3 linked regions of the Homo sapiens genome follow. The protein of the gene in region 2 interacts with the protein of the main gene of each other region in a biochemical or structural test. Each region holds a gene or a part of one and is shown on either strand. Other genes may lie near its edges. The genes, in order: TUBG1, KIF14 and CLK1.

Region 1 (3,210 bases), on a different chromosome or scaffold from region 2:
GAACTGGAGCCTAGAACCTGAGCCCTGGATGAAAGTCGAGGGAGTGTGGCCAGGTCTCAATTTGGAAGCCCAGAGTCTAAGATGTCTCTGCCCTTCCCCCTGTAGGGCTACAGACTTCCAAAAGTCAAGGCTCCCTTCTCTACTGATTTGACCCCACCCCAGTTTCGCCATCAAGATTTATCTGCTTCTGGACAGTTGTTAGGGAGCGCCATGTTCACCAGGCCTTCGGTCTGTTGCCCTGATCCTTTCCCCAACCCCCACCAGGTATCCTAAGAAGCTGGTGCAGACATACTCAGTGTTTCCCAACCAGGACGAGATGAGCGATGTGGTGGTCCAGCCTTACAATTCACTCCTCACACTCAAGAGGCTGACGCAGAATGCAGACTGTGTGGTGAGTCCTGGATTCTACCTCTCCCAACTCTCAACACCCCATACCCACTCGAGTCTATTAAATCATTTTCATGTATTTAAAAAAAATCCATTTTAGCCAGGTGCAGTGGCTCATGACTGTAATCCCATCACTTTGGGAGGCCAAGGTCGTTGGATCGTTTGAGTTTAGGAGTTCGAGACCAGCCTGGGCAACATGGCGAAACCCCATCTCTACTAAAAATACAAAAATTAGTCGGGAGTGGTGATATGTGCAGAAGGATCACTTGTGCCTCAGAGGCAGGGGCTGCAGTGAGCTGAGATCATGTCACTGACTGCACTCCAGCCGGGGTGACAAAGTGAAACCCTGTCTCAAAAAACAAGAACAAAAAAAAAAACTGTTTAAATAATTAAGATGAAAAGAAAAATTTAAAAATCCATTTTGAGCCCTCCTTTGCCCTAGGTCAGTGCAAATCTCTTTCCAGTGAGTCTTTCTGGCCATGAAGCTCAAAGGAAATTAAGCTTCAGAGCCTAGGGTCAGGCAGAGCTCCTGTTTTTCTTATCCCCATTGATCTGTGATCCTCTTCTGTCCCCCCAGGTGGTGCTGGACAACACAGCCCTGAACCGGATTGCCACAGACCGCCTGCACATCCAGAACCCATCCTTCTCCCAGATCAACCAGCTGGTGGGCCCCCACTCCTGGACTCCTTTGGACTTGAAGCCCTCCTTGTTGGAGGGTCATTTGGGGAAGGGAGGTCCCACCCAGGCTGAGGCCCATAACATGGCACGCCTGTCCCCAGGTGTCTACCATCATGTCAGCCAGCACCACCACCCTGCGCTACCCTGGCTACATGAACAATGACCTCATCGGCCTCATCGCCTCGCTCATTCCCACCCCACGGCTCCACTTCCTCATGACCGGCTACACCCCTCTCACTACGGACCAGTCAGTAAGAGCAGCCTTCAGTGTCCCAGGCCAGGCCGGCCCTGGGCCCAACAGGCCCTGTCCTAGCCTTTCTCTCTTCCCCACTGCCCCAGGAGCTACCCTTTGTGGACCCCAAGGCGCGGCGCTCAGGGACTGGCACAGAGTGGGCGACTTTCTTGCTGACTTGCTCTCCACCCTCCCTCTGCCTTTGGCTTCTGCCAAAGAGAAGCCAAAGGGGGACTGTGCCCTGAGCGCTGGCCGGGTCCCTGTCTCACTGTCCTATCAGGTGGCCAGCGTGAGGAAGACCACGGTCCTGGATGTCATGAGGCGGCTGCTGCAGCCCAAGAACGTGATGGTGTCCACAGGCCGAGACCGCCAGACCAACCACTGCTACATCGCCATCCTCAACATCATCCAGGGAGAGGTGGACCCCACCCAGGTAGGGGAGGCCCCTTCATCCCACACCCTGGACCTGCAGGGGTAGAGGAGAGGCCACCTCCACTGCTCCTATGCCCACCCCAGGTCCACAAGAGCTTGCAGAGGATCCGGGAACGCAAGTTGGCCAACTTCATCCCGTGGGGCCCCGCCAGCATCCAGGTGGCCCTGTCGAGGAAGTCTCCCTACCTGCCCTCGGCCCACCGGGTCAGCGGGCTCATGATGGCCAACCACACCAGCATCTCCTCGGTGAGTCTCAAAGTTTGCACCTTTTTTCCCTGAATCAGTTTCCTGACTATACCTCACCTCTCTGCATCTGCTGGCCCTGCTTCTAGCTTTTTTGCTGTGGGCATAGCCCAGCCTTGGTTCCCCAGCTTTCTGGGCCACGTTATTCTTTGAAGTTCTTTGTAACCCCTGTTTTCTGCACACCCCAAGCTCTTCGAGAGAACCTGTCGCCAGTATGACAAGCTGCGTAAGCGGGAGGCCTTCCTGGAGCAGTTCCGCAAGGAGGACATGTTCAAGGACAACTTTGATGAGATGGACACATCCAGGGAGATTGTGCAGCAGCTCATCGATGAGTACCATGCGGCCACACGGCCAGACTACATCTCCTGGGGCACCCAGGAGCAGTGAGTCCCCCAGGACAGGGACCCTCATCTGCCTTACTGGTTGGCCCAAGCCCTGCCTGACTGACCACCCCCTCAGAGCACAGATCAGGGACCTCACGCATCTCTTTCTCATATACATGGACTCTCTGTTGGCCTGCAAACACATTTACTTCTCCTCTTATGAGACTATTTATCTTTAATAAAGCACTGGATATAAATCAAGTCACTGCTCCCTTTAAAGCCTTTGGGTTCTGGAGATGCGGTGGGGATGCCTGTTCTTTCTCCATCATTCTGACAGGGTCCTCACCCACTTCCAGCATCTTCAATTCTGAACCAACAGCTTCCCCTAGGTTTTTCCTCTGCCTAGTTTTGGAGAACGCTGGTGGGGTTTGACCCACCTGAAATTCCTTTCCAGGGTAAAAAGGCCCAGAGATATTACTTTGTTCTCTGTCTGACCCTTTCTGGGTCCCCGTTCCCTCCCACCCTCACTGTATCAGGTGAATATTCCACCAGCCTCATGTTTCCACATCAGAGTGTCTGATTAATCACAACCTGAGGCCCAAGGCCACCACCACTGCCACTAGGCCATGAACAAGCAATGGAGTCCAACCCAATACCTTTAAGCTTCTAGCAAGCAGTCCAGGAGAGCCGCTCGTTTCAGGCAGTTGGAGTCTAGCAGCATCAAGTCAGCGACCAAATCTAAAACCTAGACTGTAAGCAGGATCATAAGTGGTTCCATAGCTAAGGCACCGTAATTCTCTTCTCTAGTGGTTGCCAGTAATTTAAATGGCCAGTGCCTTCTACTTCTGGTGGAAGATTGCAGGGAGGTAGTAAATACATAGGGGCCTAAGTCTTCAGGATTGTTTTTTTTTTTTT
Region 2 (3,654 bases):
TGATGGGATTTAGTGAAGAACCAGGAATAATTCCAAGATTTTGTGAAGATCTTTTTTCTCAAGTAGCCAGAAAACAAACCCAAGAGGTATGTTCTTATAATACCTGCAAGCTTCTTTTCAGAGTAGAAAATAGTCAAATCAAGTTCAAATCAGTCATGGCCACTAAGGAAATACTTAATGGAAGATCAGTTCTAATTTGTAGATCACTCTTCTTTGGAACAGTGGTATGGAGAGGGAGGGTGGAAATTCTAAATTCAGAATCAGTTTCACCTAGTGGGCAGTGATAGTGAAGTCATCTCTTCTGTCTTTTCTCCCTTGTTTTTGCTTTACTTTTGTGTATACGTAGAGGCTCACAAACATGGTAGCTATGTGCTGTTATACGTGTGTTTGTAGTCAGATAGGTGTACAGTTTAACTAAGGACAGCAGGCATAACCTTTTGGACAACGTGAATCAGAAAGAGTAGTGAAATTGGGATTTGAACCCAGAGTTGACTTCAAAAGCCATGCTTTTTCCACTCTACTACACCTGAATAGGCTGTACTGGCTTCCTATTTCACTTATTCATTTACACATTCAGCTACCTTTTACTGAGCATTCTGCTGTTGCCAGGCAGCTTGTTAGATCAGTTTTTTTTTTTCTCAAATTTTCTTGGTCATAAGAATCACCGGGGATTCTTGGCAGGGACATATATGTGCATGTGTATGTGTATGTACACACTTGCTAAAAATCTCTTCTGGGGGTTCTGAGTCAGTTGGTCTGGTGTAGAGCTTGGGATTTTATAATTTTCATGCTTTTCCTCCAGTATTTTTTATGATAAAGGAAATTGGGAAAATTGTGCTAGATTAGGGGTGTGGAGTTAAAAGACCCAGTCCCTGTATTCAAAGGAGTGTAGTGGGAGAAATAAGTTAACAGCCAAGTACAATCAATTAAATGCTAAACAAACTAAAGTAGATGCTCTAATAGAACATGTAAGTGAGGACATATAAAGTTGGAGGGAGACATTCTCTCAGAGGAAGGAGCAGCTGAGCTTATTTTTGAAGGATACATAGCATTATTAGCTTGGTAAAGAAGGGGAGAAGGATATTCCAGGGAGAGGGAGCAGCATGTACCAAGATTTGAAAGCAAAAAAGTAGGGAGCCTTTGGGAATCTATAAATTGTTCACTGTGTTTTGAGCATGGAATTTGAGGGTGGAAAGTGATAAGAGAAGAAACTAGAGGCTGGGTGCGGTGGCTCATGCCTGTAATCCCAGTACTTTGGGAGGCCGAAGCGGGCAGATCACCTGAGGTCAGGAGTTCGAGACCAGCCTGGCCAACATGGTGAAATCCTGTCTCTACTAAAAATACAAAAATTAGCCAGGTGTGGTGGCACATGCCTGTAATCCCATCTACTTGGGAGGCTGAGGCAGGAGAATCGCTTGAACCAGGGAGATGGAGGTTGCAGTGAGCCGAGATCGCGCCACTGCACTCCAGCCTGGGTGACAGAGCATGACTCCATCTCAAAAAAAAAAAAAAAAAAAAAAAAGAGAATAAACTAGAAAGGCCTGCAGAACTTGGCTCATGAAGGACTGTCTTAGTAAGGATAACTGGTAAGACTTGCTGATTATTGGAAATGGAGGATGAGGGAGAGAGAAATCAATGTTTCTGGTTGGACAACCAGATTAGATATCGATGTCATTTTTTGAGATCACAAGAGGAAAAGTAGATTTGAGTAATTGATGAGTTCTGTCTCTTCTGTGGATATACTGCCTCTCCTCTGTCTTCTTCTACCCTCAACCTCTCATTCCCAGTAATTAAATTGAAAATAGGAGGAGTATGGGGATCAATAGAAATATGGTGGTATTGAGACTATGAGATGAAATATGATTCAAGTCCAAGTTTAGTGGGCATAAGAGAAAGCTGTGGGCTTGTGGGGCAGAGTTCTCTATTGGCTCTCCAGATTTTAGAGGGATAGTAATTTGAAGGTAAAGCCAGGAAGACATAGATAAGTGTAGTGGAGGCAAAGGTCTTTGGAATGATTTCAAAGGACTAGGAGGCTCAGATTTTGCGTGGAATGACTATGTCATTGAATAACATAGTGTAATGAATGCTTAAGAGCCTGGTTGGCCAGGCATGGTGGCTCACGCCTGTAATCCCAGCACTTTGGGAGGCCAAGGCAGGCGGATCACCTGAGGTCAGGAGTTTGAGACCAGCCTGGCCAACATGGTGAATCCCTGTCTCTACTAAGAATACAAAAATTAGCCAGGTGTGGTGGTGGGCGCCTGTAATCCTAGCTATTCGGGAGGCTGAGGTAGGAGAATCGCTTGAACCCTGGAGGCGGACATTGCACTGAGCTGAGATCATGCCACTGTACTCCAGCCTGGGCGACAGAGCAAGACTCTGTCTCAAAAAAAAGAAAAAAAAAAAGAGCATGGACTTTGGAGATACATTATTTGAATTTGAATCTCAGCTTCATCACTGCAGTAGAAATGTGATCTTGAACAATTTACTTAATGTCTTTCTGTGTTTCAGAACAGAAAATAGAGATTATATTGACAATGTCTTTCTCATAGGTTTGTTGTGAGCATTAAATGAGTTGATCTATACAAAAGGTTTTGAAGAGTGCCTGGCACATAGTGAGCCCAACTAAATGTGGTTATATCAACTTTGGAATTAGCCAGGATGGTAGAGAATAATAGTATGTGGATGGGGGTAATAGAAGGTGGTATAGCGAGCATGATGGCAGGAGCCTCAGAGGAGAAGAAAAAAGTAGGACCTCTCCAGTGTGGCCCCAGCTACCTTTTCCAATTTGTTTCCCACACTACATTTTCATTTCTAAGTCCTCCTGGAGCCTCTATAACATAAAATACTATTTTACATAAAATAAGCATTATTACGTGTTTATTGAATTCTGACAGCCCCCATCCCTGTTCATAGCATTTGTCAATGACCTTATAATTACTTGGTGTTCCCTTATACCTGGTCTCTTTGGAAGTGTTTTGTTTCTCTCTCATGACACCAGCTATATTCTGCCTTGTATTACTCATGTACTGTATTGCATCTCCAATTAGCTTCTGAGTTTTTTCAGGATAAAAACTATGTCCAGTTCATCTCATATTTTCCCACAGCTCCTAGAAGAGTGCTTTGTACCTAGTAGGGCACAATAAATATTTGGTGAATTGAACTTAAATCTCTTTGACACTCCCTTGAAGCTTCCAATTCTGTTAGATGCTTGCTGACTCACTTCTGGGTCAGTGGATGAAATTTATTTCTCTAATAAGGAAACCATGCCCTAACTGTCAGAAGAGCTGTTTGGAAGCAAAGTTTCCCGTTTTTGGCCTCTACACTGTATCTTTCAGAGTCAAAAGGAGGAGAAGCTCAGCCCACTTAATCTAATGATTGCTTTCTCTCCCAATCAGGAAGAATTGTTGATTTAAGGTTCCATCTTACCAGATCAAATGTCAACCTACAGGGTGTCTTTCCTATTCTGAGCACATGTGATGCACAGATGCTGCTGTCCTTGCCCGAGAATGCCCTACCCCCTCTTTCTGGTTCAATCTACTCTGTCTCTCATGCCTCACATTCTATTTACTCCTTCCCTTTTCTCTGGCCATCCTAAATTTTCCCTTTTCTGATTAGTCATATTTATAGTCATCTCATTTTGATTCTTAATTAATT
Region 3 (3,654 bases), on a different chromosome or scaffold from region 2:
ATAGGTAAGGAGGATACTTAAAATGTCTGAATATAACAATACATTACTAGACAAAACTAGTATCACTTAAAATAAGTACCTGATTACTACCATTCGTTTGTTTCCAATGAGAGATTTTGATGGTTTGTAATGTTTGTAAAATTAAGCTGCTTGTGGGGGAGTCTAGGTGCTGTCTTGAAGAGAATGTGAGGATATTTGGTCTTAGCATAAAACATTGAAAATAATTTTTATTTCTCTAGCCATTATTTGGAAAGCAGGTCTATAAATGAGAAAGATTATCATAGTCGACGCTACATTGATGAGTACAGAAATGACTACACTCAAGGATGTGAACCTGGACATCGCCAAAGAGACCATGAAAGCCGGTATCAGAACCATAGTAGCAAGTCTTCTGGTAGAAGTGGAAGAAGTAGTTATAAAAGCAAACACAGGATTCACCACAGTACTTCACATCGTCGTTCACATGGGGTATGAACGTTTTTAAAACATTTTGGAAATTTTATATCCCATGTGGAACAGGGAAACTTGAATTTTTGTGTTTGATTATTTGAGAAAGTTTTAAGATGAAATCATCTCAGTTTTAACCTGCAGGATTTTTTCTGTGTTTGTGCATTGGATAGGAAATTCCGGAAATAAAGTACACATTTAGTTCTATAATTTAATTATTGGTTGGCTCCTAATTGACATTCCAGTGAAATGATGGGAGTTAATTGATTTAATTTAGATTAGTTGAAAATTATTACAAAATATTCTAAAAGGGTTTTTTGTGGTACTTCAAGAAACCTGATTAGTTTTGATCTATTGAAATCACAAAAGTAGAACAGGGCATTTTATTTTTGTATAATTTAGGATTAGGTATGCTTCTTTGTTCTAACAAGTCATGTTTTCTAACCCTTCTTTCACTAAGCAAACCAGAACAGATTTGAACTGTTATGGGTTATATATTAGTATGGAGATCAGCTCAGATGACATTAAAAATGCCGTAGTGTTATTCTTGTATGCCAAATCTTTTTTTCCCCAAAATTAGCACTTTAATTTTATTTACTGTTATAATATTTGTTTTCTTAGATTAGGTAGGAAATCTTAATTTGGCCACCGCCTACTTTGACAAGTAAATATTACATCATACGATTTTGCAACATTAAATTAGAACACTAGAAACTAAAAAATTATGTTTCAGTGAATGCTACAACTAAGCATTTTTTTTTTTTAAGAAAAACAATTGTATTATGTTTTGTTGCCTTGCCACTTTGAGTATCTTATCTGAAAATCTGTTCCTTGCCATGTTTTTCTCCTGTTAACATAAACTATGTGCCCTGTGAATTTCTGGGGACTGAATTTGAAATTGCTCCTGCCAACCGTTTGTGGCCTGGCGTGTATCTGAATGCCTGAATATCTCCCCGCTGAATGAATTTCGTATTCTGCCCTGAATTCACTCGGGTATATTGATTGGCTGGATGATCTTGGTGCCGCCCACTTGACGTTTCCAGAAGAGTCACCGAAGGAAAAGAACCAGGAGTGTAGAGGATGATGAGGAGGGTCACCTGATCTGTCAGAGTGGAGACGTACTAAGTGCAAGATGTATAGAATATTTTTCAACACTTATTAACTTTTCAGATAACATAATCTATATATAGATTAAGCTTTCAGGGATTTGGAAATCTTTTTTTCTTTCTCTTTTTTGTTTTTGTTTTATTTTTCCATTTCTTTTGGTGGGGGGGATTGTATTTTTGCTTTCTTTAGAAATGTAATGTTTGTTATATAGAACTTCCAGAACAGTAATCAAATTAATGAAATTAGACCTAATAATTATGTTTTTTGATGGTGTTGACCAATAAAATATCTAGTGATAAGGAAATTTGTAGCATCAACTAGAATAATCTACATTGATAGCATTTATTGTGATAAGTACATTGTTTCCACTTCTTGATATGACTGAGATTTATTTCTCTCTTTTAGATGAAATTGTTGATACTTTAGGTGAAGGAGCTTTTGGAAAAGTTGTGGAGTGCATCGATCATAAAGCGTAAGTTTCCCATGTTGGGATTACTTTTAGGGAAGTTGGCAATACAGGTAATTGATTTAGCTTTAGAAAGTGGTCTGACCATGAGTTAGATACATATCTTTATACCCTTTTTTACTTGGATGTAAGACACTTCCAGTTAAGAGGTACTTGCCCCTTCATATTTTTTAAACAGCTACTAATAGTATGTATAATTTCTAATTTTAGGCTGAGAACACACTTTATATTGTTTTGAAAGTATTGTTTTGTTGTTCAACTGGACACTGTTGTTAGGCCATATTTTTTTCCCCCACCATATTAGTGGTTCTCAGCCTTGGTTTTATGTTAAGATCCTCCTCGAGAGGTTTGCCTACCCCAGACCTTTTCAGGGTAGTTACCTAGGAATCTATATTTTTAGGAAGTGCTGTAATTCATTCTGATAACATAGCTGGAGATAACTTGGTGTCCCAAGTTTAATTATGTATGTTTATCAAACTACTGATTGAAATTTTTTTTTTTCTCGAGACAGAGTCTCGCTCTGTCACCCAGGGTGGAGTGCAGTGGCGCAATCTCAGCTCACTGCACCCTCTGCCTCCCGGGTTCAGGTGATTGTTCTGCCTCAGCCTCCTGAGTAGCTGGAACTACAGACACGCGCCACCATGCCCAGCTATTGTTTGTATTAGTATTGTATTGTTTGTATTAGTAGAGACTATGTTGGCCAGGCTGGTCTCGAACTCCTGACCTCAGGTGACCTGCCCACCTCAGCCTCCCAAAGTGCTGGGATTACAGGCATGAGCGCTTGGCTCCAGCCATGAAATTTCTTAAGATAGTATAGAATTTTTTCCGTTACTCTTTTTTTTTAGTTCCCTGTTTGTTGTTGTTGTTGTTGTTGTTGTTATTGTTCTTCCTCTTCCTGAATGGCAAAGCATTTTTGAGGGGGCTTCCTACTATTGATTGGTAAGGACATGAGAGCTAGAGCTCTTTTTTTGTTTATTTTTCTTTTCCCTGAGATGGAGTCTTGGTCTGTCGCCCAGGCTGGAGTGCAGTGGTGCAATCTTGGCTCACTGCAACCTCCACCTTCCGAGTTCAAGTAATTCTCCTGCCTCAGCCTCCCAGGAAGCTGGGATTACAGGCACACACCACCGTGCCTGGCTAATTTTCATATTTTTGGTAGAAATAGGGTTTCACCATGTTGGTCAGGCTGGTCTCGAACTTCTGACCTCAAGTGATTTACTACCCTCGGCCTCCCAAAGTGCTGGGATTATAGGCGTGAGAGCCACTGCTCCCGGTCCTAGAGCTCTTTACTCTTTCCCCACTGTATCCTAACTCTTTTGGCAACCTGGACTAAAAGAACATTTGAGATAATGTTTGACAGTGACAGGTACCATATAGGAAGAAGTTGTTTAGCTGAAATACCAAAAAATAACTCATGTGAGTGGTGGTTTGATGAAAGAAATTTGTGTCATTCAGCATGTAATAGAATCAGAACTGAACACTAAACCATAAATTAAAAAAATACAGTGGGTCAGAGTAGTAGTACAGTTTGAAGACAGTAATACCTGGAATTGAGCATCATGTCTGTCATTCTTAAATTTGCATGCATCTTTCTAACAGGGGAGGTAGACATGTAGCAGTAAAAATAGTTAAAAATG

What was found.
Region 1: the proteins of KIF14 (region 2) and TUBG1 interact in a test that uses a peptide from one of them, tested with the Homo sapiens proteins (one study listed by BioGRID).
Region 3: of the proteins of KIF14 (region 2) and CLK1, one has a biochemical effect on the other in vitro, tested with the Homo sapiens proteins (one large-scale study listed by BioGRID).

Annotation. Positions count from the first base shown.
Region 1 is NC_000017.11:42,612,683-42,615,892, forward strand, and holds the end of TUBG1 (tubulin gamma-1 chain), read left to right. Parts: intron 1-264; coding exon 265-391; intron 392-964; coding exon 965-1,051; intron 1,052-1,166; coding exon 1,167-1,316; intron 1,317-1,577; coding exon 1,578-1,730; intron 1,731-1,813; coding exon 1,814-1,975; intron 1,976-2,161; coding exon 2,162-2,359; 3' UTR 2,360-2,556; downstream 2,557-3,210. UniProt on the Homo sapiens protein: Tubulin is the major constituent of microtubules, protein filaments consisting of alpha- and beta-tubulin heterodimers. Gamma-tubulin is a key component of the gamma-tubulin ring complex (gTuRC) which mediates microtubule nucleation.
Region 2 is NC_000001.11:200,610,750-200,614,403, reverse strand, and holds part of KIF14 (kinesin-like protein KIF14), read left to right. Parts: coding exon 1-86; intron 87-3,654. UniProt on the Homo sapiens protein: Microtubule motor protein that binds to microtubules with high affinity through each tubulin heterodimer and has an ATPase activity. Plays a role in many processes like cell division, cytokinesis and also in cell proliferation and apoptosis.
Region 3 is NC_000002.12:200,858,052-200,861,705, reverse strand, and holds part of CLK1 (dual specificity protein kinase CLK1), read left to right. Parts: coding exon 1-4; intron 5-239; coding exon 240-468; exon of another isoform or gene 469-1,490; coding exon 1,491-1,581; exon of another isoform or gene 1,582-1,959; coding exon 1,960-2,026; intron 2,027-3,616; coding exon 3,617-3,654. UniProt on the Homo sapiens protein: Dual specificity kinase acting on both serine/threonine and tyrosine-containing substrates.